Linked DNA regions of Homo sapiens. The protein of the gene in region 1 purifies or fractionates together with the protein of each later gene. This does not show direct contact. Each region holds a gene or a part of one and is shown in the gene's direction. Other genes may lie near its edges. The genes, in order: KLHDC9, CTSA, GLB1 and NT5DC2.

Region 1 (7,134 bases):
AGGACCACAGTATGGGTTAAGGGACAAATATCTTTATTTTGACACTAAGACCCCACTGTGGGGAAATTCTACTCCCTGAAAAGGCCCTATGTATTGAAGCTCACTCAGGTCTTCATCAAAAATTGAGACCTTATGACTGTGCCCGGGGACCCCAAACTGGTGCTATAGTTCTAGAAAGCAGCCAAAGGGAAGAAGTCTGGCCACTTCTGGAAAGTTCTAAAGCTCCTTGCAGGAAAGTCAGATGGCTGGCTCTGGTCAGCAGGAAAAAAAGGGCAGTAACCCAGAGAGAAAAACACAAAAGTCGAAACAGTGAGAGACAGATCTCAAGGCACAGTGAGAAAAATGGAAACTTAAAGACAGAAAAATATACAAATGCTCCTTGACTTTTATGATGGGGTTATGTCCTGATAAGCCCATTGCAAACTGAACATATAAGTTGAAAATGCATTTAATATACCAGTCGCTAGCCCTAGAAAATATCAAAATTTAAAATTCAAGTATGGGTCCTACCGAACACGCTATCATTTTTGCATCACTGTAGTTTAAAAATTATAAGTTGGGTTGGGCATGGTGGCTCACACCTGTAATCCCAGCACTTTGGGAGGCTGAGGTGGGCGGATCATGAGGTCAAGAGATCGAGACCATCCTGGCCAACATGGTGAAACCCCGTCTCTACTAAAAACTCAAAAAATTAGCTGGGCTTGGTGGTGCGTGCCTATAGTCCCAGCTACTCAGGAGGCTGAGGCAGGAGAATCACTTGAACCCAGGAGGCGGAGGTTGCGGTGAGCCAAGATTGTGCCACTGCACTCCAGCCTGGTGACAGAGCAGGACTCCGTCTCAAAAAAAAAAAAAGAAAAAGAAAAAGAAAAATTGTAGGTTGAACCATTGTAAGTCAGGGATTGTATTGGAGACACACACACACACACACACACATGCGCGCGCGCGCCCGCGCGCGAGTTATTGAAGGGGGAGAATTCAAAGAGACAAAGTGGCTGAAGTGGCCAAGACAAAATCTGAAACAGAGACAGAAGGACCCGAAGAGAAATTTCTGGATGCCATGATTACTCAAAGTCCTTCTGTCTTCTGCCCTCAATTCCCACCGCTCAGCAATGACCCAATGATACTTTCCTACTCAACATTGCCTACTCCCTCAACAACATAAGCTTCTCCCCATCCTTATTCCACCTCTCCATCATTCTCTACCTTGGCTGATTACCACTCCCCTCCACCCTAAAGCCTGCTTACAATTTCACCTTTCTCTCAATCTCCTTCTAGCTCACATTCAGTCAAAGGAGCTCTCAAGATCTGACCTCATGCAGTCTCTTTGCCTGGTCATTTCTCTGTCCTTTTGTCCCTGTCTTTATTCTGGCTGAGCTGAGAGCAAAGAGTCAGAAATGGGGCCAGGATGGCATAGGGCCAGGAAGTCAAGCAGCTAGAATGAGCTGTGTGAGAAATAGAGAAGGGTCAGGGTACAGCAGAAGAAGAGTCAAAGAAAGGGCCTGAAGGATGGGGACAGCCTGGGAGACATGGGCAGAGGGAACTGTGGGAGTCTTGAGTGCGATTAAGACCGTTTGGTGCAATTGTTGGTCTTTCTTTCTTTCTTTCCTTCTTTCTTTCCTTCCTTCCTTCCTTCTTTCTTTCTTTCTTCTTTCTTTCTTTCCTTCCTTCCTTCTGTCTTTCTGTCTTTCTCTCTCTTTTCTTTCTCTCTCTCTCTTTTCTTTCTTGCTCTCTTTTCTTTCTCTCTCTCTTTTCTTTCTCGCTCTCTCTTTTCTTTCTCTCTCTCTTTCTTTTCTTTCTCTCTCTCTTTCTCTTTCTCTCTCAGTCACCCAGGCTGGAGTGCAATGGCACAATCGCGGCTCACTGCAACCTCAGCCTCCCAGGTTCAAGCGATTCTCTTGCCTCAGCCTCCAGAGTAGCTGGGACTACAGGCATGCACCACCACGGCTGGTGAATTTTTTATTTTTTATTTTTAGTAGAGATGGGGTTTCACCATGTTGGCCAGGCTGGTCTTGAACTCCTGGCCTCAAGTGATCCACCCACCTTGGCTTCCCAAAGTGTTGGGATTATAGGCGTGAGCCACCACACCCAGCCCAATTGTTGGTTTTCTGTATGTACCGAATAATGCTAAGAACCAGAGATGGTTCCAGGGTCAGAAAATGGGGTTAAGGAAGGGAGAAGATAGAGTAAGAGCTTTGTGAAAGTTTGAGGCAAGGGGGCGTAGATTTGGGGCTAGGATAGACATCTAAGGCTAGGTAGGAAGCTGGGTGCTTGCTTGCTAGAGATCATATAGACTCTTGGCCAACTGAGACAAAGCCAACATCAGGGGATCACATCAGGATTACGAGACTTTCAGGATATCCAGTCCCTGCTCTCATTTCTGGACAGAGGTTGTCCCTGGATATTATTAGCAGGTGAAAGCAGGTTCACAGCCCTGGCTGCCCTTTTCCCTGTCTCTCACAATTTTCTCTCAGTTCCCCCTTTCACTTATCTTAATGCCCTTTCAGTTTGTGTATCATTGACAAGGTCATTATAGACCACTGCAGATGCTGTCCTGCGGTGTGAAGCATGTGTCATACAAGTCCAGGTTGGCTGGTTTGCTTTCTTCCTCTCTCTGTTTCTCTCTTTCTGGCTTCTTTTCTCCCTCCTCCAAAATATGGATTTGGTTCAAACTAACCTAAGAAGGTAGGAGTCCTAGGCAGTTCCTCTCCCAGGGTCTTGGGATGGCAAAGCAATGGACAGATGCTTCCAGCTATTAGGAGGAACTGGAAGCATCTAGGTACAGAACTGGAGAGGGTACAGCCAAGGAGTATGTGAGGTTCAAGCTCTATGTCTAACTAAGATGCCTACTGCTAAGGACTCAGAGTCAGAGAGGAAGCTGGGAGAGAGGAGCTGGAAAGGCCCGTGGGGTGGGGAGTTCCCATTTCTATCCAGGAAAGGCAGAAAGTAAGTCTAACAGAACAGCCAAGACTTAGGCAAAAGCAAGAGCCTAAAATGGACATATAGGCCAATAAGGTTTAAGCAAAATTGCCCCACCCCTGAGGCAAGCCCTTGCCTAATCCTAGGAGTATGACAGATCTGAATCCAGCTGTTGGGAGGTTAGCCAGTGAGAAAGAAGCCTGAGGGAAAAGACTGACTTTTAAATTTCAGCCAAGGACAGTAAAAGTTAGTGATTTTTTAGAGATTCTTACCATGATTTTGGAAAACTGAGAATACTGCCTGTCATACTCAGGGAAAGCTATAGTTGGGAGGGCAGAGACTTTCAAAGCTATTGTTGAATCTTGGCTTTAAGGTACAGGTGGGGAACAGGTCCTGGTAATCTTCCAATCTCTGTAACTGTGCCTTTCCTGCCCATGCCATCCCCATGCTGTGTTCTCTGAGGACCAAGAGTTGGGAAGAGGAGGGGAAAGCCCTGCTGTGCTATCAGACCCTGCATTACATGCCCATCCTCACTGCAGCCCTGGCCACTGTCTCCTTTCTTCCTTTCTTTATTTCTTTTCTTTTTTTCTTTCTTTCTTTCGCCAGGGTCTCACTATGTTACCCAGGCTGGTCTTGAACTCCTGAACTCCTGGCCTCAAGTGATTCTCCTGCCTGGCCACTTTCTATGGTCTCAGTATCTCAGGTATGATGGGGAGCAAGGTGATGTGTAGAAACCAAAGGCCACAAGTAGCAGTCATCATTCCCACTTACAGCCCAGTCCCAGAGGACACAGATCCTGTTTTTGCCCCACACCAGCTGTGTTGGGAGGAAAATTCTGTCTGTATTTCCTCCTTCAGCTGAAAGCAGAAAGCTTGCATCTGGGCCTCTTCAGTTATCACTTGGTCCTGGGGGACAGAGTTAATATCTGGAAACTGGCTTAAATAAAAGATATCAGGGAAGGGTAGGAGTCTGTTTTTCTCATTTTCTCACTCTTCCCCCACTTCACCCTTCTAAGGCTGCGTGGGTTCTCTCTCTCTCTCTATCTCTCTCTCTCTCTCTCTCTCTCTCTCTCTCTCTCTCTCTCTCTCTCTGTGTGTGTGTGTGTGTGTGTGTGTGTGTGTGTGTGTGTGTCACCTGAGAGACTGGGTTCTGCTACCCTCTAGTGGCCAGAGCTGAAAGGACTCTCCCACCCAATCAATCGGGACCTTCAAGCCTTTGGGAATAAACGAACAGCCTATTTGATGAATGACAAAACTGAGAAGGCCTAGAGAGAAACAATGCCTTTGAGGGTCAGGGGCATAGTTGGGACTAGAACCCAGGTCTCCTGTCTCTCGGGCCAGTGGTCAGTCCACTTTCACTTCCCCACCCTCTGACTTTTGCTTCTCCTTCCTTGCTCATCCCTGGGGTGGTTAGCCCGAGTAAGAAACCCTGAAGCCAAATGATCCCTCCCGGCCCTAGTGGAGCAGCACCTGCACCTCAAATGTCAAAATCGCAAATCAGTTCACAGCGGAGATCACAGGGGTTTATTCTAAGGACCCGACTGTCCTCCGACTTTCTGAGGTTAACAATCTTGCAGGATTTTTATTGACCTGATACAGCTCCCGTAGCCTTGGTGGCACCACCATACGGTTCCCGATAGCCACCCAGGTGTCCTGTCTCCACGGTAACTGCTGCTTTGCGACCTTCGGTTTGCAGCGGTCGCGCTGCAGCCGCTGCAGTGGTTGCTGGGCGACCACGGAGAGAAAGCCGGGACTTGAGGTGGGAACCCCGGCTGGCGTCCGGTAGGGGGAGGTTCCCGGGGAAGCCCGCGGAAGGCGAGGTGCCTGGCCTGCCATGTAGGGGCTCGTTCCAAGCCGCAGACCCCACCGCCCTCCCTCTCCCCGGGGCCCATGGCGGTGGCCGTGCCCCCGGGTCGGGCCGCAGGCTCAGGCTGGGCCTGGAGGCCAGTGGCGCGGGACGCGCTTTTGGCTAGAGCTTTCCATTCATGCACCGAACTGCGGGGACGGTTCTATCTCGTAGGTGGTCTCCTAGCAGGAGGAGCGAGAGAGCCCAGCAGCGATACGGTGGTTTTCGACCCAGCTAGGGGCCAGGCCGTACGATTGGGAGCCCGGGGCAGCCCCCCGCGCAGTCACCACGACGCGGCACCCGTGGACGGGCGTTGGCTCTGCGTGGTGGGCGGCTGGGACGGGTCTCGCCGCTTGGCCACAGTGACCGCACTGGACACAGAGCGCGGTGTGTGGGAGGCGTGGACAGGGACCCCTGGTGACTGCCCCCCCGCCGGCCTCAGTAGTCACACCTGCACCCGAATCTCTGACCGAGAGCTGCAGGTGGCTGGCCGGGAGGGCGGTATCCACACTCAGCGACGCTATGGAAGCATCTACACATTAAGGCTGGACCCCAGCGCCCGCACCTATTGGTATGGCACCCTCCGCCCAAAACCTTTCACTCTCATCCACACTCTCGAAAAACAAAAGCCTAAGCAGATTTCTCAGGCAATTTATCCACCTCCTCACTCTAGCACCCTCCTTCCAGGGGAACCTACCATGTTTAAGCTAGCTGAGCTCTCTACAGTATTACCCTCCCTCTTATCCCACCTACCGCACTGCCCCATGCCTCTTCTCCATCCATCCTTGGCAAGGGCGGTGGCACTTACATTTTCCAGAAAACCCACTCAGCCCTGAATTTCTGCATGTCCACAGCTACAAGCAAGAAGGCTGCCACACAGCCTCACGCTCAGGTCACTGTGCGGCCCTGCTCCAAACTCCTGGACCCCATCCAGGTCATCAGCTATTGCTCTTTGGAGGTTGCAACTTAGCTGAACCAGAAGTAGCTGGGCATTGGAGTCATGGGAAAATTAAGGTATTAGCTCCTCACACATCTTGTTTAGGATGGGAAGAGGCTAAAATTGTGATGCCCAGGTCTCTTCGGACAGTCCTTTCTTTCTCCCCAAGGAGGAACCACCTGTTGCTCCTCATTTGATGGAACAGCTTGCAAGGCTTGTGAGCAGTGGGCAGGGGTCCCAGAAGGGGCCCCATGGACTACGGCATCACTCATGTTCTGTGGTCGGGCCCTTTGCTGTGCTGTTTGGTGGAGAAACTCTGACCAGAGCTAGAGACACCATCTGCAATGATCTCTACATCTATGATACTCGTGAGAGCCAGACTAATGGCTGAAGGGGGGGAAGGTGGGAAGATGGGGGAACCTGAAGACTACAGAAAGAGGATGGAGTGATGGGGTAGGGAGGAGGAAAAATTAGTTGACAGGAGTTAAAGGAGTACACAGAATATTAAGCATTTGAAGAGGCCTACAAATCAAGTGAGCAGAAAAACAATGGGCAAGCCCTTGGTCATGTTGAATTCTGTGAATGACAAAGTGCTACTGCCTCAATAACCACCCTCTGCCCGTATCCAACAGGCACATCTCCTCCTTTGTGGTTCCACTTCCCCTGTGCAGATCGTGGGATGAAACGCATGGGCCATCGCACCTGCCTTTGGAATGATCAGCTTTACCTGGTTGGGGGTTTTGGTGAGGATGGCAGGACAGCCAGTCCACAGGTTTGCATCCTGGACTTTATCTAAATAGTGCCAAGACACATCACTAAGCCTCGTTTTGTTTTGCTTTGTTGCAAACCTATAAAGCGTTATCACCAGAGCTATCTGCTTCACTTCAAATGCTTATTAAATTTCAATCTGAGACTCAAGATTTGTCTCTGAAATTTTTGGGGGGAGGGGGAAGGGCAGTAAATAAGTGGACATACCTTTATTTGCAAGGAAAGGATAAAATAAATATGGGTCCTACTCTCATATTATGAGTCATTAACCTGATGGAAACAAAAACCACACATCATATGCTGTTCCGTGTCTCAAAACAATTTCCACCCCCAAGTGGGAGAAAACTTCAGGCTACAGCTAAGATTCTGACCAAAACATTTAATTAACAAAAAAATATTACAATAGCAGAGAAAATAATAATAATAACAATAAAGAGAAATTAGAAGTGGGAGTCAGGGTAGAAAAAAATGCAAAGGCCTTGGTCCCTAGGAGACCAACACTCCAGCTGAGCTGGCCTTAGCCCCAGCCCCTTCTGAGTTTTCCTTGGCTGCTGGCTTCTCATCTTCTCCCATGAGACGAATGTTGTGCTTTTCCCGGAATTCATTTAGTTCTTTTCCCTTTGCCTGAAGCTGCTGTGTCAGTGTCTCAATGATCTTCTGTATCTAGA
Region 2 (5,015 bases), on another chromosome or scaffold:
CTGTGTCTATGTAGATTATTTAAGCTTCAAGATTCCCCCTCAAATGAGATCATACTACCCACATTTTCCAGATAAGGAAACTGAGGGCTATGAATTTTGAAATCACTGTCTGAAGTCACAGTGTTGGGAGGCAGTGATGCTAGGATTTGGACCCAGGTCTGGGAAGATTCCTGCCACTGAGCCTCAGTTTCCCTACCTGTGAAAAAAAGTGGGTGAAGAGGTGAAATCCAAGAGCAGTAAATCTTGGGACAACTTGGTGGGGTCGTGGAGAGGCTGGGGATCTGTAAAGCATGGTGGCTTGGTGTATCATTGCAGCTTCAGGAAGTGGCCCGCATCGTGGGCAACTCTGGCCTCAACATCTACAATCTCTATGCCCCGTGTGCTGGAGGGGTGCCCAGCCATTTTAGGTAGGTGCTGCTGGGTGCCCCTGGAGCCAACCCCAGCCCCATCTGGAGGCTCCACACCCATTCCCCCACCTCACATTGCAGGTATGAGAAGGACACTGTTGTGGTCCAGGATTTGGGCAACATCTTCACTCGCCTGCCACTCAAGCGGATGTGGCATCAGGTGTGCGAGGGCGTGGGCTTCCTCCTGGTGAGGTGGGGGCAGGGGGAGGGGCAGGGAAGCAGAGGCCCTGACCCACTGTCTGTGCCTTCCAGGCACTGCTGCGCTCAGGGGATAAAGTGCGCATGGACCCCCCCTGCACCAACACAACAGCTGCTTCCACCTACCTCAACAACCCGTACGTGCGGAAGGCCCTCAACATCCCGGAGCAGCTGCCACAATGGGACATGTGCAAGTGAGGTTCCGTGGCCACCTGTGACTTGGGGTGGTGGGTTGCTGGGGCTTGTGGGCATCGGCAGGTTTCTCAGGGATCTTCTGTGTAGAGTTTCTCAATGAGATGAGCTGTAGAGGATGTTTAACATCCATCCCTGACCCCTCAGTGGATTGAGAGTCAGCCAATTCATTCTTTTATCTTTTTTAAATTTAAAATTTTTTTGTTTGAGACAAGGTCTCACTCTGTCACCTAGGCTGGAGTGCAGTGGTGTGATCATAGCTCACTGCAGCCTCAAACTCATGGGCTCAAGCAATCCTCCCACCTCCCCAGTAGCTGGGACTACAGACGCACCACCACCCCCAACAAGTTTTTGTATTTTTTGTACAGATGGTGTTTTACCACATTGCTCAGGCTGGTTTTGAACTCTGGGGCTCAAGTGATCTGCCCATTTCAGCCTCCCAAAGTACTGGGATTACAGGCATGAGCCACCCCGCCCAGCCCCATTTCATTACGTAGCCACATTGGTTGTTGTTTCACAGTTCACTACAGCCTCAACCTCCTAGGCTCAAGCGATCCTCCCACCTTAGTCTACTGAGTAGCTGGGTCTACAGGCACATGCCACCATTCCTGGCTAATTTTTAAAAAATTTTTTTGTAGAGACAGGGTCTCACTATGTTGTCCAGGTTGGTCTCAAACTCTTGGTCTCAAGCAATCCTCCCTCCTTGGCCTCCCAAAGTGCTGGGATTACAGGCGAGGGTCCCCACACCCGGCCATCACATTGGTTAATAACTATTACTTCCGACTGGGCGCAGTGGTTCACGCCTGTAATCCTAGCACTTTTGGAGGCTGAGGTGGGGGAATCACCTGAGGTCAGGAGTTCGAGACCAGCCTGGCCAACATGAAGAAACCCCATCTCTACTAAAAATACAACAATTAGCCAGGTGTGCTGTTGGGCACCTGTAATCCCAGCTATTCAGGAGGCTGAGGGAGGAGAATCGCTTGAACCCAGGAGGCAGAGGTTGCAGTGAGCTGAGATCATGCTACTGCACTCCAGCCTGGGCAACAAAAGTGAAACTCCATCTCAAACAACAATAACAAACTGTTAACTTCCATGTCCAGTCTCCTGTGGCCACCCCCCCCCACAACCCCAAGTAAAAGGGTAACACTGGGCCCAGCAGGGCTGCTCAGGTCCATTTTGATTGGTCAGTGCTCACACTCTACCCTGTTGTATGTTGTGACTCCCACACCTGCTGGCCCCTAGACACTAAATGCCAGATGCATCCCAGTCCTCGTAACAACCAAAATGCGTCCCTTGTACATTTCTTTTTCTTTTTTTTTTTGAGATGGAGTCTTGCTGTCACTCAGGCTGGAGTGCAGTGCTGCGATCTTGGCTCACTGCAACCTCCGCCTCCCGGGTTCAAGTGATTCTCCTGCCTCAGCCTTCTGAGTAGCTGGGACTACAGGCACGCACCACCACGCCTGGCTAATTTTTGTATTTTTTTTTTTAGTAGAGACGGGGTTTCACCATGTTGGTCAGGCTGGTCTCGAACTCCTGACCTCGTGATCCACTCACCTCGGTCTCCCAAAGTGCTAGGATTACAGGCGTGAGCCACCACGCCCAGCATCCCTGTACCTTTCTAAATGGTGGTGAGTTGAGGCTGTCTGAATCCCAGCCCATCCAGCCCAACATCCAAGTCAGTCCTAGAGAGGTGGCCCCCCCCCAAAAAGGGGAGTGGAACCCAGCTGTCTGCCTTCTGGGTTGGAGCTTGGAGATAGGAGAGAAGGTCTGATCTGTTGACTACTTTTCGCCCCGACCTGGTCTTCCTGGGGCCTGCTCGTATGTTCCCGGCAGCTTTCTGGTAAACTTACAGTACCGCCGTCTCTACCGAAGCATGAACTCCCAGTATCTGAAGCTGCTTAGCTCACAGGTGAGTGGGGAGAGCACAGCTGGATCACCAGCAGCCTTAGGACCCCAGAGTAGCACAGCAAGCTGGGGGCCCTTGAGACTTCCTGTCAGGACAAGGGAAGCTGAAACTCCGAAAGGCGAAGCCCAGGGTCCTGTGATTGGTGGGGTCAGAATTTGAACCTGGGTTTGTCCCCACCCATGCTGTCCTGCTATAGGAGGCCTAGGGGTCTGCATCAGCCACGGAGTCTTAAGGGTGAGAAGAGCTTCATTCATGCCAAAAATGGGCCAGCAGAGGTCCAGGGTGGGAGGAGACCTTGCACAAGGTGATATAGGAAGCACTGGCAGGGCCAAGTTAGGACTAGGTTCTGTCCAGCACAGTGGTTAATAGCATGGGCTCTGGAGTCACATGGCCTGGGTGCAAGTCCCTGTACTAGCCACATAATCTTGGGCAAATTTCTTAAATATGAGCCTCAGGTTCTCCATCTGTAAAATGGGGATAATAATGATATCTACCTTCACAGATAAAACATTTAGTAGAATACTGGACATGCAGTAAGTCGTTAGAAAACATGAAAATTCCCTGGTTCGTGTTATCTAGCTTGGCCCCTTGAATTTCCTGAGGGGTAGGCCTTGAACTAGGGAAGGGCTGGGGACTGGGCTTGTTCCACACCCCTCATTTTTACCCCATCCTGCTTTAGAAATACCAGATCCTATTATATAATGGAGATGTAGACATGGCCTGCAATTTCATGGGGGATGAGTGGTTTGTGGATTCCCTCAACCAGAAGGTAAGGTAGAGATTCCTGGCCCTGGGATAGGGGCTGCTGTGGAGGATTGGGAGCGGGTATGCCTGGGAGTGGCCAGCTGGCTGCCTGGCTCTGGCCCACAGAGGGCAAGTGTGGAGGAATTCCCAGCCCTAAGGTCTTGCTGGTAGCTGTGAGCAAGGATGCAGCTGCTGTAGGCTGATGTCTTTCCTGGTGGGGCAGATGGAGGTGCAGCGCCGGCCCTGGTTAGTGAAGTACGGGGACAGCGGGGAGCAGATTGCCGGCTTCGTGAAGGAGTTCTCCCACATCGCCTTTCTCACGATCAAGGTAGGGACTGGGCCTGCTGAGAGATAACTGGGCCGGAGGCAAAGGAGCAGGACCCACCCGTCCTTTCCCTCTGGCTGCCTTTTAGGCTGGGTCATGGGTCACCATCTGGCCCCTGTATGGGCAAGTTTTTTTGGAGAGGGGTGGGGAGGGTTCTGGGAAGAATAAAGGGTTTGGGATGAAGGAATTGCCCCCGAGTGAGCAGTTATATGGGGAGGAGGGAATGGTGGGGTCAGGAGCTCACGAACATTGCTCCTCAGGGCGCCGGCCACATGGTTCCCACCGACAAGCCCCTCGCTGCCTTCACCATGTTCTCCCGCTTCCTGAACAAGCAGCCATACTGATGACCACAGCAACCAGCTCCACGGCCTGATGCAGCCCCTCCCAGCCTCTCCCGCTAGGAGAGTCCTCTTCTAAGCAAAGTGCCCCTGCAGGCCGGGTTCTGCCGCCAGGACTGCCCCCTTCCCAGAGCCCTGTACATCCCAGACTGGGCCCAGGGTCTCCCATAGACAGCCTGGGGGCAAGTTAGCACTTTATTCCCGCAGCAGTTCCTGAATGGGGTGGCCTGGCCCCTTCTCTGCTTAAAGAATGCCCTTTATGATGCACTGATTCCATCCCAGGAACCCAACAGAGCTCAGGACAGCCCACAGGGAGGTGGTGGACGGACTGTAATTGATAGATTGATTATGGAATTAAATTGGGTACAGCTTCAAATCCCGTCTTCTCTGTGGCACTGGGGGTTAGAGGGGGCACTACAGGCTATGAATGTGGGAAAAGAGGGGCTGAGAGGGGTTGGGGTCCTGAATGACAGCTGCCAGCTTGGGGATTGAGGGCTCAGACAGCTGCTGTGGACGGTGTGGGGGCAGTGGACGCCCTGACATCAGCAGGCCGGTTCTTCTCAATCACCTCTCGCAGCCCTTTGGCAAAGTGGAGATCAGCCCCGATGGTGAGGAATCCCTGTGTTGGGGAGAGGGGAGCCTCATTTATTCATTCAGTTATTGAGGCCAGAGTTTAGAGATCAAGAGACAGAGTGTTTGTCTTTCAGGAACTCAATCTAATGGATAATTCCATGTCAAGGTGTTAAAATGAGGCTGTAGGAGTGTAGACTATGGGTGTCAAGGAGGGCTTCTTGGAGGAGGTGACCTCTGAGCTAAGACCTGAACAATTAGTAGGTATTGGGATGGGAGAAGAGTGCTCCAAGAAGTCACAGTGTGTGCAACGGCTTTTAGGAGTCTAAGATTAA
Region 3 (7,029 bases), on another chromosome or scaffold:
GAATCCTCCCCTGGAATTTTCCACTAAAAGTAGTTGGCAGTAAAACATTCCAGGGCAAAGGAAACCAGCTTAGACCGTTCCATGCTCTGAGCTGTGTCTGGCAGTTTTCCTGTTTAGGAAGCAGTGATTGGGGGATCTTTCCGACCTGGCCGGTAACTTGGGCTAAGATGCTATCAAAGCATTTCTTTCCAAGTCTGGTGACACTTCAAGGCAAGAAAATGAGTGCTAAATTAACTGAGCATGCTGCCTCTCCTTGCTGACCTTCTTACCCTCAATTCAATTGTCATTTGGTCTTGAACCCCACAGATCCCCCAGGGAGTCCTTGAGCGAAACAATGTGATCACTCTGAACATAACAGGGAAAGCTGGAGCCACTCTGGACCTTCTGGTAGAGAACATGGGACGTGTGAACTATGGTGCATATATCAACGATTTTAAGGTAGGACAAACCACACTGTCAAGACTAAGGTTTAAGGGGTGACAACTTAGAAGTTGAAGCCCAGTACAGTGGCTCACACCTGTAATCTCAGCACTTTGGGAAGCCAAGGCAGGAGGATCACTTGAGGCCAGGAGTTCAAGACCAGCCTGGGTAAAATAGTGAGACCTCTACAAAGAATTAAAAACTTAGCCAGGTGTGGTGACATGCACCTGTGGTCTCAGCTACTCAGGAGGCTGAGGCAGGAGAATTGCTTGAGTCCAGAAGTTGGAGATTAAAATGACCTATGATCATGCCACTGCACTCTAGTCTGGGTGACAAAGTGAGACCTTGTCTCAAAAAAAAGAAGTAGTTGAGCTATTTTGAAGAGCTGTTTTCCTCTGTAGGTGATGAGAAAGTTGAGCTTTGCAAACAGAACCTTTCCCCTGTGTTTGAGTTTGGTCATCCTATAGAAAGAAACAGAAGGAGGAAGCCCCTCCACCATGCTTTTCCTCTGCTTTAAAAGACCACCAAGCTCACTGAAGGCACTCCTTTGCCAGTAAAGCCAGCTGAGCCTCTGTTCTGCCCTGTTTTATGGGTTTGGATGGTTAGCCTGTGGCAAACTCTTCACTTGTAGGAAGCCTCTTCCCTTGGGGCACTGGCTCTCACCTCTGTTGATTACTCCTGTGTCCAGATGTGTAGCCCAAATAAGTTTTTCTAACACATATTTTTAGAGCATTATTCAGCAAGCATTTGTTAAGCTCCCACTCCGCGAGATGCCCCACCAGGTGCTTTGGGGAATGCAAAGGTGTCAAGAGACAGGCTTCTCTCAGGGAGCTCAACCTCCGCGAGAGGAGAGAATGCCTTATCAAGGGAACAATGGCACCACCCAGGCTAGGGCAGGACAGGTGTCTGGGGCTATTTCCTGACCCTCTTGAGATCAGGCAATTACATCTTAGGGAACTTAGGGAATAGCTGTGTGCAGGCCACCTTTGCCTCCAGTATAAATGTCTCTCTCATAGTTCTTGTGCTCAGGGTGGACTTCATGGCCTCCTGCCTGGCTCTCACAGGCCACATTGACCCATGGGAGTGACTCGACTCTGTTGTGTAGTCTCTGGGTCTCCAGTACCTGTCAAAGAGCCTGACATACAGCCACCTGGTTAATATTTATCAAATTATTAAATGGGCAATCGAGACTTGGTATCTGGGATTCCACTGGGAATGGGGAAGTTCCCTACATACAAGCCAGGGAAGGGGAAGTTAGCTGAGCCTTGACAGCCCAGCCCTGGCCTGTGTGGAACAAATAGAGCAGCTTCTGAATTCAGGTCTGAGGTTTGCCATCGTCATCATTACCTTCCTATCCTCTTAAGGTATCACAGTATTCTCATGTATGTTATCTCACTTGGCCCTCATAACAGGTGAGTGACTCGGGTGTGGTCCTCCCTGTGATGATGGCTGAGGTGCTCAAGGCCAATATTTGCTCCTGGCTGCATCCGTCGTACCTGCTCCATCCGCAGTGGGATGACTATTCCTTTGTATCCCACACTCACTCATTCCTTCTGTCCCCAGATTCCATCTTGAGACAGGATCTTGCTGTCACCCAGCCTGGAGCGCAGTGGCACAATCTCGGCTTACTGCAACCTCTGTCTCCTGGGCTCAAGCAATCCTCCCTTCTCAGCCTCCCAAGTAGTTGGGACTATACGTGCATGCCCCCACACTAGGCCAATTTCTGTATGTTTTGTAGAGACTGGATCCCTTTTTGTTTTGAGATGGAGTGTCGCTCTGACACCCAGGCTGGAGTACAGTGGCGCGATCTCAGCTCACTGCAACCTCCACCTGTCAGGTTCAAGCGATTCTCATGCCTCAGCCTCCTGAGTATCTGGGATTACAGGCACCTGCCACCACACCCAGCTAACTTTTGTATTTTTAGTAAAGATGGGGTTTCATCATGTTGGCCAGGTTGGTCTTGAACTCCTAACCTCAAGTGATCTGTCTGCCTTGGCCTCTCAAAGTGCTGGGATTACAGGCATGAGCCACTGCGCCTGGCCCATCTTTCTTGGTGCCCATCTTTCTCTATTCTAGCAGTGGCTCTCAGCCAAACTCTGAAAATTTGGGAATTTGGGATCAATCACTCTAGCAACTCAATGCCCTTTCTGTAGAAGCAGAAACTCTGGGCCTTTTATAGAGACATCATGACCTGCAAAGGAGAAAGCTATAGTTTGGGGAATATATCTCTTCCCAAGGATTTGTAATTCAACCTCCAGTTAGATCTGTGTTACTTCGATGTACACATATTTCGAGGTTCATTTCCTGTTGGTGTTTTGTATCCCGGTTTGCTTTTCCCATTTCCCTGGAATGCAGAGACATGTGAAGCCTTTTTCCTTCCCTCCCCAGCTCACTGTGCTCTGTTTCTGCTTTGCAGGGTTTGGTTTCTAACCTGACTCTCAGTTCCAATATCCTCACGGACTGGACGATCTTTCCACTGGACACTGAGGATGCAGTGTGCAGCCACCTGGGGGGCTGGGGACACCGTGACAGTGGCCACCATGATGAAGCCTGGGCCCACAACTCATCCAACTACACGCTCCCGGCCTTTTATATGGGGAACTTCTCCATTCCCAGTGGGATCCCAGACTTGCCCCAGGACACCTTTATCCAGTTTCCTGGATGGACCAAGGTACGTGTCTTCATGGGAAGGGTTTGAATTCAGGCCTAAACTTTTGGTTGTTAGTGTCTGAGAAAGAATCACAAAGAGCTGTTAGTGAGATATCGTGTGATGGTTTTGAGTGTGGCGTTTCGGACATTCTTCAGGAGGCGGATTGTGGCAGATCTTCAGGGATTCAGTGGCCAGCTCGGAGGTGCTGCCATCTGCCCCCTTGTCATTGGCTTCCTGTAGTGAATGACACCATCCTGCCTCCTCCAAGAAGAATCATGACCCCTTTTGATGCTGATTATAGGGGTGCTTTCTCTTTATCTTGAGGACAATCCAGTCAAGACAAAGAGGTGGATCCCTCTGGGAGAGTCTGTCTGGTTTTCATTTATGCCAAGCCCAGTGCTCCCAGAATATCCCCACCTGCATCCAGCCCCACACCCCTGGGGCTTCTATCATAAGCTGTCTGCTTCTCCACTCTTCCTCATCCATTTTCACTTCCCAGTCACTCCGCCTTGTCGTTTGAAGACATTGGCATATCTTCCTTCACCGCCTTCTCCTCTCCCTCATGTCCTGTTTTCATCCTAGATCACCTTACCATCACTCATTCAACACACTTCTCATTCTGTGGCCACTATGTGCCCAAGGTGTGTGCCAGGCACTAAGGATACAATCATGAATAAAACCAAACATGGTCCTTTCCCTCATGGAACTTTCAGTCTAGTGAGGGAGGCAGACTCATATTAAAAAGTAAAACCATAGCTGTGATGGATGCTAAGAAGGGCTATGGGGTTGATAATAATTGGTGCATTTTGCCTTGTCAGGGAGGTCAGGGAAGCCTTCCCTAAGATAGTGATGCTTGTCAGAGATATGAAGGATGAGTAAGAATTAGCATGGCAAGAAGGGAAGAAAGCATGTTCCTGGGAGAGGTAACAGCTTGTGCAAAGGCCATGGGGTTGGAGGGGAAAATGTCAAGTGTGGAAAGTAGGTAGAGACTAGATTGGGACGGGCCTTATAGGCCACGTTAAAGTTTTGTCTTTGTGTTGAGAGCCATTGAAGCAGGAGAGTGACATGATAAGACTGTGATCTGACAAGCTCCTCTGACCCCATTGTGCAGAATGGTTTGGGTAAGGACACTTATGGATTCGAGGAAACCATCTAGGAGGCTGGACCATAGTCTCATTGAGAAACTGGGATGGTGGTATCTAAGATGGAGATGACATCAACTATTTGAGAGATGTTCAAAGTTGGATCAATAAATTGTGACAATGGATTGGACAGGAGGGTTTGGGGAGAGGGATATGTCTCGGATGACTCAGGTCTCAAGCTTGCAGCTGGGCAGAATGGTACCATTTGCTGAAAGAAGCAGCTTCAGAAGGGGACTTAGGCTTAGAAAGGGGGGTCATGAGTTTGAATTTAGACCAATTGTGTTTGAAAAGCTGCCTTAGTCTATTTGGGCTGCTATAACAAAATACCATAAGCTGGGTGGCTTATAAACAACAGGCATTTATTTCTCACAGTTCTGGAGGCTAGGAAGTCTTCAATATCAGGGCACCAGTAGATTTGCTGTCTGGTGAGAGTCTACTTCATCATAGACAGCACCCTCTATGTCCTTACATGGCTGAAGGGGCAAAGGAGCTCTCTTGGGTCTCTTTTATGAGGACACTAATTTCATTCATGAGGGCTCCACCTTCATGACCTAATCACCTCCCAGAGGGGGCCCCACCTCCTAACCCATCACATGGGGGCTAGAATTTTAACAGATGAGTTTTGGGTGGACACAAACATTCAGACCATAGCAGAGGCCTTGGAGAATGGCTGGGAAAGACAGTATTGGAGGAGGGTTGTTGGATCTATAGGCTGGGAATTCAGGGCAGGGATCTGGGCCAGGAATGTATGTAGAAGATCATTGTTGTATAGATGATTGTTGAAAACATGGGCTGGATGAGGTCTCTCAAGGAGAGAGGATGCAGAGGGAAGAAAAGAGGACGTAAGGCTGATGTTTGAGGGACAAAAACATGATGAAGACTGAAGAGGAGAGACCAAACAAGTAGGAAGAAAACCAGCATTTATGCTGCCAAGAGGACAAATAAGATAAAGACAGAAGCACTTCGGTGGTTTTAGAAGCAAGGAGGCCCTTGGGAATCAGTAAGCCTTGTTCCAGTGGAGTGAAGCATCTCCCAGCCAGATTGCATTCTATAGAGAAGACCAGGGTAAGGAATACGAACAGGAATACTTGAATATAAACGTTCTTTTTGAGAAATTTAATTCTGAAGAAGAGGAGAAAATTATGTTAATAGCTGGAGGAGGAGAAGGCAAAAGATGTACATGGTGTGTGTTTAATAAAATGCCCTTTTATTTATTTATGTGTTGCTTGTTTAAAATTTATTGAAATGTATTTTCATTATTCTGTTTGAAATATTTTCTTTTTTTTTTTTTTTTTTGAGATGGACTCTGTCACCTAGGCTGGAGTACAGTGGTGTGATCTCTGCTCACTGCAACCTCTGCCTCCCGGGCTCAAGCAATTCTCCTGCCTCAGCCTCCAGAGTAGCGGGGACTACAGGCACACACCACCACTCCTGGCTAATTTTTTTTATTATTTTTATTTTATTTTTTATTTTTTGTTTTTTTTTTATTTTTATTGGAGACGGGGTTTCATCATGTTGGCCAGGCTGATCTCGGACTCCTGACCTCAAATGAAGTCTCGAAAAGTGCTAGGATAGACATCTGAATTCATTCCAACTTATAGTTATTATAGTTATTATAATACTGCTGTAAACACTTGCATGTAAGTTTTTATGTGAACTTGGCCTCGAAAAGTGCTAGGATTACAAGTGTGAGCCACCACAGCCATCCTGTTAGAAATATTTTCTACTTTCCCATATGATTTCTTCTTTGAACCATAGATTATTAAAAAGTATGTTTTACTGGGTGTGGTGGCTCATGCCTGTAAATCCCAGCACTTTGGGAGGCCGAGACGGGTGGATCACCTGAGGCCAGGAGTTCAAGACCAGCCTGGGCAACATGGCAGAACCCCATTTCTACTAAAAATACAAAAATTAGCCAGGCGTGGTGGTGAGTAACTGTAATCTCAGCTACTTGGGAGACTGAGGTGGGAGAATCTCTCGAACCTGGAAGGCAGAGGCTGCAGTGAGCCAAGAGCATGCCACTGCACTCCAGCCTGGGTGACAAAGCAAGACTGTGTCTCAAAAACAAAACAAAAACAAACAAACAAAAAAAGTATGCTGTTTAATTTCCACATATTTTGGGTTTGTAAAAATATCTTGTAATTATTAATTTGTAACTTAATTCCTCTATAAAACTTCTAAAATTTCTCTCTAGGGAGAGAAATCTCCATGATCTTGGGTTAGGCAAAGACTTCTTAGATTTGACACCTAAGGCATTATCCTTAAAGAACAAAAATTGATAAATTGGACTTTATCAGAATTAAAAATATTTGTTCTTCAAAAAGCATTATTAGGAAAATGAGAATCCAAGCCACAAACTGGGAGAAAAATAATTTTCAAATCATATATCTAACAAAGGACTTATATCTAGAATATGTAAAGAATTCTTACAATTCAATAATAGACAAACAGCCCAGTCACAAAAGGAGCAAAGAACTTGAATAGACATTTTACCAAAGAAGGCATAAGATGGCTAAGTACATTTGCATTTGTATACCTTCTTTGGTAAAATGTCTATTATAAACTAAAATTAGTGGCTGATTAATGTTCAACATTATTAATCATTTGGGAAATGCAAGTCAAAACCAAAATGAAATACTACTTCACACTCACCAAGATGGCTAAATAGTAAGAAGGACAATAGGCAATGTTGGAAAGGACATGGGGGAAAGGGAATCTTCCCACATTGCTGGTAGAAAGATAAGAAGGTACATTTGGGAGCATAGTTTGGCAATTTCTTCAAGGGCTAAACATAGATTACCATAGAACCCAGCAATT
Region 4 (7,000 bases), on another chromosome or scaffold:
GAGGGACACTGGGAAATTGGGGACAGGATGCTCATAGGCTCAGGAAACATATCACCCATTTAATCCTGCATATGTGCAGGTGCAGAGTGAGATTGCTGCACAGAGCAGCACCTTCCATATGACAGTCTTAGTAATTCTGTAGGTTGGTACAATTTTTTTTTTCTTTTTAAAAATGTTTTCACAGAGACAGGGTATCGCTATATGGCTTAGACCAGTCTTGAACTACTGGGTTTCAAGCAATCCTCTCGCCTCAGCCTCCTGAGTAGCAGGGACTGTAGGTGTGTGCCACCATGCCCCACTTGGTACAATTTTTTGTACCCTTTTAGAAACTAGGAAACAGGCCCAAGAGGTGAGGTGACATTCCTGAAGTCATAGCCATGAGAGGGAGGGCCTGGTCTTGTCTGGCTGACCTCATTGCATGTGGCCTTCCTAGCACATCTCCTTCCCTTTCCTTTCCCTTCCACTTTCTCCATTGTACACATAGGGAAACCAGGGCAGGTAACATGGGGCCTCTCAGCCCCATCTGCCTCCTTGGGACCCCAGAGCCCATGCCACACAGTGCTCTGCTCAGCACCCTGCTGTGGGCCTCAAAGCCAACTGCAGCCTCCTGGGAGCAGCCAGGGACTTGGGGTGGCCACGACCACATCCCCAGAAGGAGCAACCTGGATAATGGCCCAGAACCTGACATCACGTCCTGACTGTCGTAATTAGCAATGTTCCCTGGCTAGAGCCAGCAAATGTCATTATATGGGCTTGCGGGCAGCTGAAATCTGATTAGAGGGGCCTCACTCTCCCTGGGCTGTGGGAAGTGCACAGAGCTGGCAGCCCGATCGGCAGAGGGGCTCCCCCTCCCACTAATGTTCCTGAGCCCCAGTCCCAGCTCTGGGCAAGGTAGAAAAGTCAGCATCCATGGCCTCAACCCCCTAGTCTGGCCATACAGAGCCAGCCCCTCTGGGTTGGAGTCCTCAGTGCCCACATGGTATCCTCACACATAATCCCAGGGAGGCTGAGAGATGAGGCCAGGGGGCAGGGCAGGGCAGCTGAGAGGAGCAGAGGAGGCGCTGAATTGTGGGGGGCCAGACAGTGGTGTTCCTGCACGGGTTTTGAGCAAGTGGGAGGCTTTGCTTTGTAGAGCATCCCAAAAGCAGCTGTTCTGGGGCTAGGCGGTGAGGAGTTGAGTGACTGCTGCCAGGGTTCTAGCATGGCCTTGTGTCTGATGGGGCTTAGTGGTGAGGGCCTGGAGTAGTCACGGGCTCAGTATACCTGGTGGGCTATAGGAGATAGTGTAATGTAGGCAGGTGTAACCATGAGGAGGAGCTCCAGCCAGGGGCTCTGCCTTACCCTAACTGCGTGACCCTGGGCAAGTGACTTCTCTCTGGGCCTGTTTGACCATCTCCAGCACTGGAATAAGAGGTGCCATTGTGGGGCGTTTCTGAGGCTCACAGGGCTAGGTCCCCACAGAGTGCTCAGGAGCCATAGCTGCTGCAGGGATCATCATCCCCATCACTGCCTCCCTGCATCTCCTTCCTCTAGACCTCCTGCCCCCCGAGGTCTGCAGTCTCCTGAACCCAGCAGCCATCTACGCCAACAACGAGATCAGCCTGCGTGACGTTGAGGTCTACGGCTTTGACTACGACTACACCCTGGCCCAGTATGCAGACGCACTGCACCCCGAGATCTTCAGTACCGCCCGTGACATCCTGATCGAGCACTACAAGGTGAGACGGGGGTCCTTGCCACCAACAAACCCAGGGCTTGGAGGCTGGCCAGACCCACCTTGGCCTAAGCTCAGGGCTGAGTCGTGGGGCTCCCCTGGCCCTCTTGCCTGGCAGCTGCCCTGGGCAGGTGGCTGGATTGACCCCCTGGGGTGGCCACCCAGCCAGCAGGTCTGGCAGGGCTATTGGCTTAGGCCTGGCCCCTTTCCCCCGGCAGTACCCAGAAGGGATTCGGAAGTATGACTACAACCCCAGCTTTGCCATCCGTGGCCTCCACTATGACATTCAGAAGGTGAGTGGCTGGACCTGTATAGGGGCTCCCTCCTTGGCCTCCTCTTGGTATGGTCATTACCCCTCCGTCCCATCCAGCTGGGGTTCTGGCATGGGCTGAAAGAGGCTGGCTTGGGGCCACGGTGAAACTGCCTCCTCACCATCCGTCCTGCCTCCCTGGCGCCCCCAGAGCCTTCTGATGAAGATTGACGCCTTCCACTACGTGCAGCTGGGGACAGCCTACAGGTCAGTCGGCTCTGCCCCAACCCCACCCCCGCCCCACCCTACACTGCTGTTCTGGCTCAGGACTACCTTGGACTGATGGTATCTTGGGCCTGCTCAGGGGCCTCCAGCCTGTGCCAGACGAGGAGGTGATTGAGCTGTATGGGGGTACCCAGCACATCCCACTATACCAGATGAGTGGCTTCTATGGCAAGGTACTCCATACCCCAGCAGCCAGCCTGCCCCATGGACATGTGCCCATGTCCCAAGGCAGATTTGGGGCCCTCGTCTCCAGCACTGAAGGGGTTGGGGTCCCAAAGGGTGTCTGAGACAATGGCCCCCTCCCCAGGGTCCCTCCATTAAGCAGTTCATGGACATCTTCTCGCTACCGGAGATGGCTCTGCTGTCCTGTGTGGTGGACTACTTTCTGGGCCACAGCCTGGAGTTTGACCAAGCACATCTCTACAAGGACGTGACGGTGAGGATGCTGGGCCTGCCCTCGGATGGCAGGAAAGACTAAGTCCAGCCACAGTGGGACAGCCCCACCTGGGCCCTGCTGTACCCTCATTGTCCTCCACTGCCCCCAGGACGCCATCCGAGACGTGCATGTGAAGGGCCTCATGTACCAGTGGATCGAGCAGGACATGGGTAAGTGTGGACAGAAGCCCTGCCGTGGCCGGCCTGAGCAGGTGGCAGGACTGACCCTCACAGACTCATCTGCCCCATTAGAGAAGTACATCCTGAGAGGGGATGAGACGTTTGCTGTCCTGAGCCGCCTGGTGGCCCATGGGAAACAGCTGTTCCTCATCACCAACAGTCCTTTCAGCTTCGTGTGAGTCCAGCCCCTGTGGATGGAGGGACAGCAGGGCCAGGGCTCTGGGTGGGGAGGGCAGGCACGGAGCCGCCCTCAGACTACTTGCCACCTGAAACTCCTCCACACAGAGACAAGGGGATGCGGCACATGGTGGGTCCCGATTGGCGCCAGCTCTTCGATGTGGTCATTGTCCAGGCAGACAAGCCCAGCTTCTTCACTGACCGGCGCAAGTATGGGCATGGTGGGGGTTGCAGGGCCAGGGAAGGGGAATAGAGGCCCCACCCCAATGAGGGGACTGAAGCAGGAGGCCAACCTGGCCCTTGCCCACTGCCCAATGTGCTTGGGGTGAGAACACCCCCTTGCTGGCATGGGTCCACTTGAGCAGGTGGGCCTTTACGGAGGAGGGATGGGGGTTGCCCGGCCCGTGGCCCAGCCACAGACTGGAAGTCATGCCCTTTACCTGCACCCCAGGCCTTTCAGAAAACTCGATGAGAAGGGCTCACTTCAGTGGGACCGGATCACCCGCTTGGAAAAGGGCAAGATCTATCGGCAGGTAAGGGCCATCTGGGGAGAGCAGCATGTGGTGGGGGCATGGGGCCTAGCTAGGGCCCCAGGCTGTGCAGAGGCAGCCTCTGAAGAAGCAGCACAGCTCCTTGGCCCTGAGCAGCCTCACACAGGCAATGGCTGGCAGGGAGCAGGTCTGGGTGGCCTCGAGAGCTTGACCTCTGGGTCAAGCAGCCTGGCTTTGAATTCCTAACTCCACTACTCAGCAGAGGGAGCCTGGCCTGGTTGCCTGACCTCTGTGCCTTGCTTCCCTTGTCTGCAAAAGAGGTGTAATACTCTCTACTGAAGCTGTGGTATAAAGCTCTCAGAATGGCCAGTGCGCCAGGCACCGTGGCTCATGCCTATAATCCCAGCAGTTTGGGAGGCTGAGGCTGCAGGATAGTTTGTTGAGCTCAGGAGTTTGAGACCAGCCTGGCCAACATGGCGAAACCCCATCTCTACTAAAAATAGAAAAAATTAGCGGGGCATGGTAGCATGCACCTGTGGTCCCAGCTACTCCAGAGGCTGAGGTGGGAGGATCACTTGAGCCCAGGAGTTCGAGGCTGTGGTGAGCTGTGATCACACCACTGCACTTTAGCCTGGGCAACAATGCAAGACCCTGTCTTCAAAAAACAAGAATGGTCAGAGATCGTGAAATGCCTGATGAATGGTGTCATTTCTTGGGGTTGAGCACTCTGCTGCAGCCAGAACAAGTCTGGTTGGGGGCAGCTCACTGGGTGATCTAGAGAAACTCCTCCTTCCTACCTGGCTAGGAAAATGAGAGGGACTGGTGTTGAGGTGGGATTAGGTGTCTATGAGCAGGCAGTGATTAAGGTTTAGCCCTGGCTGGAATGCGGAAATCCTGGCTGAGCTGGGCTTCTTCAGGCTAGGGGTTCTAAAGGCCTTGGGGCTGGAGGAGGGGGAAGCCAGCAGCTGGCCAGGGGAGCAATGTGGAGGTGGCCAATGCCCAGCCTGGCCTGCAGGAAACACCCCCACCCTCTCAGCCCTGCCCACTTCTCTGCCTCCCACCCTTCCGCACCCAAACTCTCCACAGCCCTCGGGCCCAGGTGCGTCCCTTCAGCTCTGAGGGCGCTGCTCTCCCCTGCCTTGGCATCCAGCCTCAGCTAAAGAGGGTCATACACCTTTGTGAGAAACACATGACTTTCTTCCCTGGCAGCTTTCAGGCAGTTCTTTATGCCCAGTATTCTGAAGCTGCTTTCCACTGTGTGTTGGATCCTGCCTGTCAGTCACTAGGAGTCTGTCAGTCTCCTGCCCTTTGAGACTCTTTCTCTTGGTCTGGGGCCTGCCTGGGCCTCTGCCCCTCCACTTGAACTTAGTTCAGCAATTGGCTTCTCCCACACCACCTGTTTCCCCCAGCGCTTCCACTTCTGAGGCTTGGAATGCACAGACTGCTTCAAGAACTGTGCTTGCTGGGTGTCAATTATTCTCGCTTTTGGGGTGTGGACTCCTACCCTGGTGGCTGCTGCCTGAGCACTAGTCTGGTGATTCCTGCTCTGGGCCGCTCAGTTTCTGCCACCCTGTGAGCTTCCCCAGTTACATGTGGGCCTGGCTGAGTGTCTCCATCTTTCTCTGGCTCCAAGATGCTGGTGGCCCCGGTGAGGTCTGCCATTGGTCTGCCAGGTCCCTCTGCACTGAGGCAGGGGAGGCCAGCAAGGACTTCAGGGCTGCAGAGCCTTCCCTGCAGTTTCTACCTTACAAACAGGGATCTAATCCCTAACCTGGGGTACGTGTGAGACCACAGGGAGAAGGCCCTCGAGGCATGGGCACCATGCCAGGCCTGTAGGGCACCTTCCTGCAGCAGGCAGAATCCCCTTCCCAAGTAGGAGGGGAAAGTGACAAGAACCAGGGCCCAGGGAGGGAGCAGCAAGGCCATGGGAAAGGGCAGCCAGCATCCGGCTGGATTTGGGCTGCCTCTGGGGATTCGGGAGGGAGGACTGGTGGAGGACAAGGCACACTTGGCTCAGCAGCATTCCCCTCCTCTCCCTAGGGAAACCTGTTTGACTTCTTACGCTTGACGGAATGGCGTGGCCCCCGCGTGCTCTACTTCGGGGACCACCTCTATAGTGATCTGGCGGTGAGGGAGGCAGGGCTGGGCTGCAGTGGGGGAGGGCCAGGAAACCCCCCCCCCCCCGCCCCCAGCAACTGGCGCTGAGCCCAGTTCTGCCGCCCCACCCACCAGGATCTCATGCTGCGGCACGGCTGGCGCACAGGCGCCATCATCCCCGAGCTGGAGCGTGAGATCCGCATCATCAACACGGAGCAGTACATGCACTCGCTGACGTGGCAGCAGGCGCTCACGGGGCTGCTGGAGCGCATGCAGGTGTGGGCCGGGGTGGCTGTGGGAGGGCCAGGGCGGTAGCCTCCTGGGTGCACACACCCAATGCACACTTTGTGTCCCCAGACCTATCAGGACGCGGAGTCGAGGCAGGTGCTGGCTGCCTGGATGAAAGAGCGGCAGGAGCTGAGGTGAGCAGGTGGGGCCAGGGCAGGAGTCCCAGCCAAGCCACCACCCCAGGCCCACCCCTTGAGCGCATCGTGTCTCCCTCGCCAGGTGCATCACCAAGGCCCTGTTCAATGCGCAGTTCGGCAGCATCTTCCGCACCTTCCACAACCCCACCTACTTCTCAAGGCGCCTCGTGCGCTTCTCTGACCTCTACATGGCCTCCCTCAGCTGCCTGCTCAACTACCGCGTGGACTTCACCTTCTACCCACGCCGTACGCCGCTGCAGCACGAGGCACCCCTCTGGATGGACCAGCTCTGCACCGGCTGCATGAAGACCCCCTTCCTTGGTGACATGGCCCACATCCGCTGAGGGCACCTTTATTGTCTGGGACAGGCCCTCAGCCCCTCCTGCCCCATCCACCCAGACAAGCAATAAAAGTGGTCTCCTCCCTGTGCATGCTTCTGCTTTCAGCCCCAGCCTCGTCACTTGACTGTGAGGATCCTCTGGGTGTCAGGGAAGTCCTCCTCCAGCAGTGAGTCCTAGAAGAGCAGGGTTGGTGGTGGAGGGTGTGACCAGGGCCTGGGCCCATCCCACATCTGCCACACTTCTTCACTTCCATGCTTACATCGAAGGGTTCACAAAAGGTGTCGCTGCCAAAGACAGGGTTGGGGACAGAGACCAGGGTGGGGTTGGTCCCTTCTTGCCACGGTGAGAAGTCGTCATCAGCATCATCTTCCGCCTGGGAGCAGCAGAGGGGTGAGTGGCGAGGCGCCTCAAGCGAGATCCAAGGACCCGCCATGGCAGCCCCAACCCAGCCCTACCTGGAAGGCAGAGAAGCCAAAGCCCATGGGCTTGCCTCGGGCACGGAGGTAGAGAGCTCCGGCCACCAAGCCAAGCAGTGCTCCAGCGGCAAGCACAGCCCCCACGCCTGCCGCCACAGGTGGGGCTTCAGGCGCCAGCACTGCCTGCTA

Evidence for each region.
Region 2: the proteins of KLHDC9 (region 1) and CTSA purify together in Homo sapiens (affinity purification with mass spectrometry; 2 studies listed by BioGRID and IntAct, with this or other methods). This does not show direct contact.
Region 3: the proteins of KLHDC9 (region 1) and GLB1 purify together in Homo sapiens (affinity purification with mass spectrometry; 2 studies listed by BioGRID and IntAct, with this or other methods). This does not show direct contact.
Region 4: the proteins of KLHDC9 (region 1) and NT5DC2 purify together in Homo sapiens (affinity purification with mass spectrometry; 2 studies listed by BioGRID and IntAct, with this or other methods). This does not show direct contact.

What each region holds. Positions count from the first base shown.
Region 1 is NC_000001.11:161,093,731-161,100,864, forward strand, and holds KLHDC9 (kelch domain-containing protein 9), read left to right. Parts: upstream 1-4,630; 5' UTR 4,631-4,805; coding exon 4,806-5,332; intron 5,333-5,615; coding exon 5,616-5,775; intron 5,776-5,848; coding exon of another isoform or gene 5,849-5,867; coding exon 5,868-6,066; intron 6,067-6,330; coding exon 6,331-6,494; 3' UTR 6,495-6,616; downstream 6,617-7,134. Other genes in the region: PFDN2 (prefoldin subunit 2), read right to left, coding at 6,953-7,129.
Region 2 is NC_000020.11:45,894,335-45,899,349, forward strand, and holds the end of CTSA (lysosomal protective protein isoform b preproprotein), read left to right. Parts: intron 1-315; coding exon 316-407; intron 408-488; coding exon 489-567; intron 568-659; coding exon 660-799; intron 800-2,630; coding exon 2,631-2,706; intron 2,707-3,382; coding exon 3,383-3,472; intron 3,473-3,670; coding exon 3,671-3,775; intron 3,776-4,032; coding exon 4,033-4,116; 3' UTR 4,117-4,486; downstream 4,487-5,015. Other genes in the region: PLTP (phospholipid transfer protein isoform a precursor), read right to left, coding at 4,607-4,729. UniProt on the Homo sapiens protein: Protective protein appears to be essential for both the activity of beta-galactosidase and neuraminidase, it associates with these enzymes and exerts a protective function necessary for their stability and activity.
Region 3 is NC_000003.12:33,010,118-33,017,146, reverse strand, and holds part of GLB1 (beta-galactosidase isoform a preproprotein), read left to right. Parts: intron 1-306; coding exon 307-438; intron 439-2,836; coding exon 2,837-3,091; intron 3,092-7,029.
Region 4 is NC_000003.12:52,523,868-52,530,867, reverse strand, and holds the end of NT5DC2 (5'-nucleotidase domain-containing protein 2), read left to right. Parts: intron 1-1,533; coding exon 1,534-1,718; intron 1,719-1,932; coding exon 1,933-2,007; intron 2,008-2,175; coding exon 2,176-2,231; intron 2,232-2,328; coding exon 2,329-2,422; intron 2,423-2,556; coding exon 2,557-2,685; intron 2,686-2,794; coding exon 2,795-2,855; intron 2,856-2,936; coding exon 2,937-3,039; intron 3,040-3,149; coding exon 3,150-3,251; intron 3,252-3,492; coding exon 3,493-3,574; intron 3,575-5,572; coding exon 5,573-5,659; intron 5,660-5,764; coding exon 5,765-5,905; intron 5,906-5,986; coding exon 5,987-6,051; intron 6,052-6,136; coding exon 6,137-6,398; 3' UTR 6,399-6,481; downstream 6,482-7,000. Other genes in the region: STAB1 (stabilin-1), read right to left, coding at 6,512-6,568, 6,655-6,768, 6,851-6,997. UniProt on the Homo sapiens protein: Promotes dephosphorylation of tyrosine 3-monooxygenase TH which decreases TH catalytic activity and leads to reduced synthesis of catecholamines including dopamine, noradrenaline and adrenaline.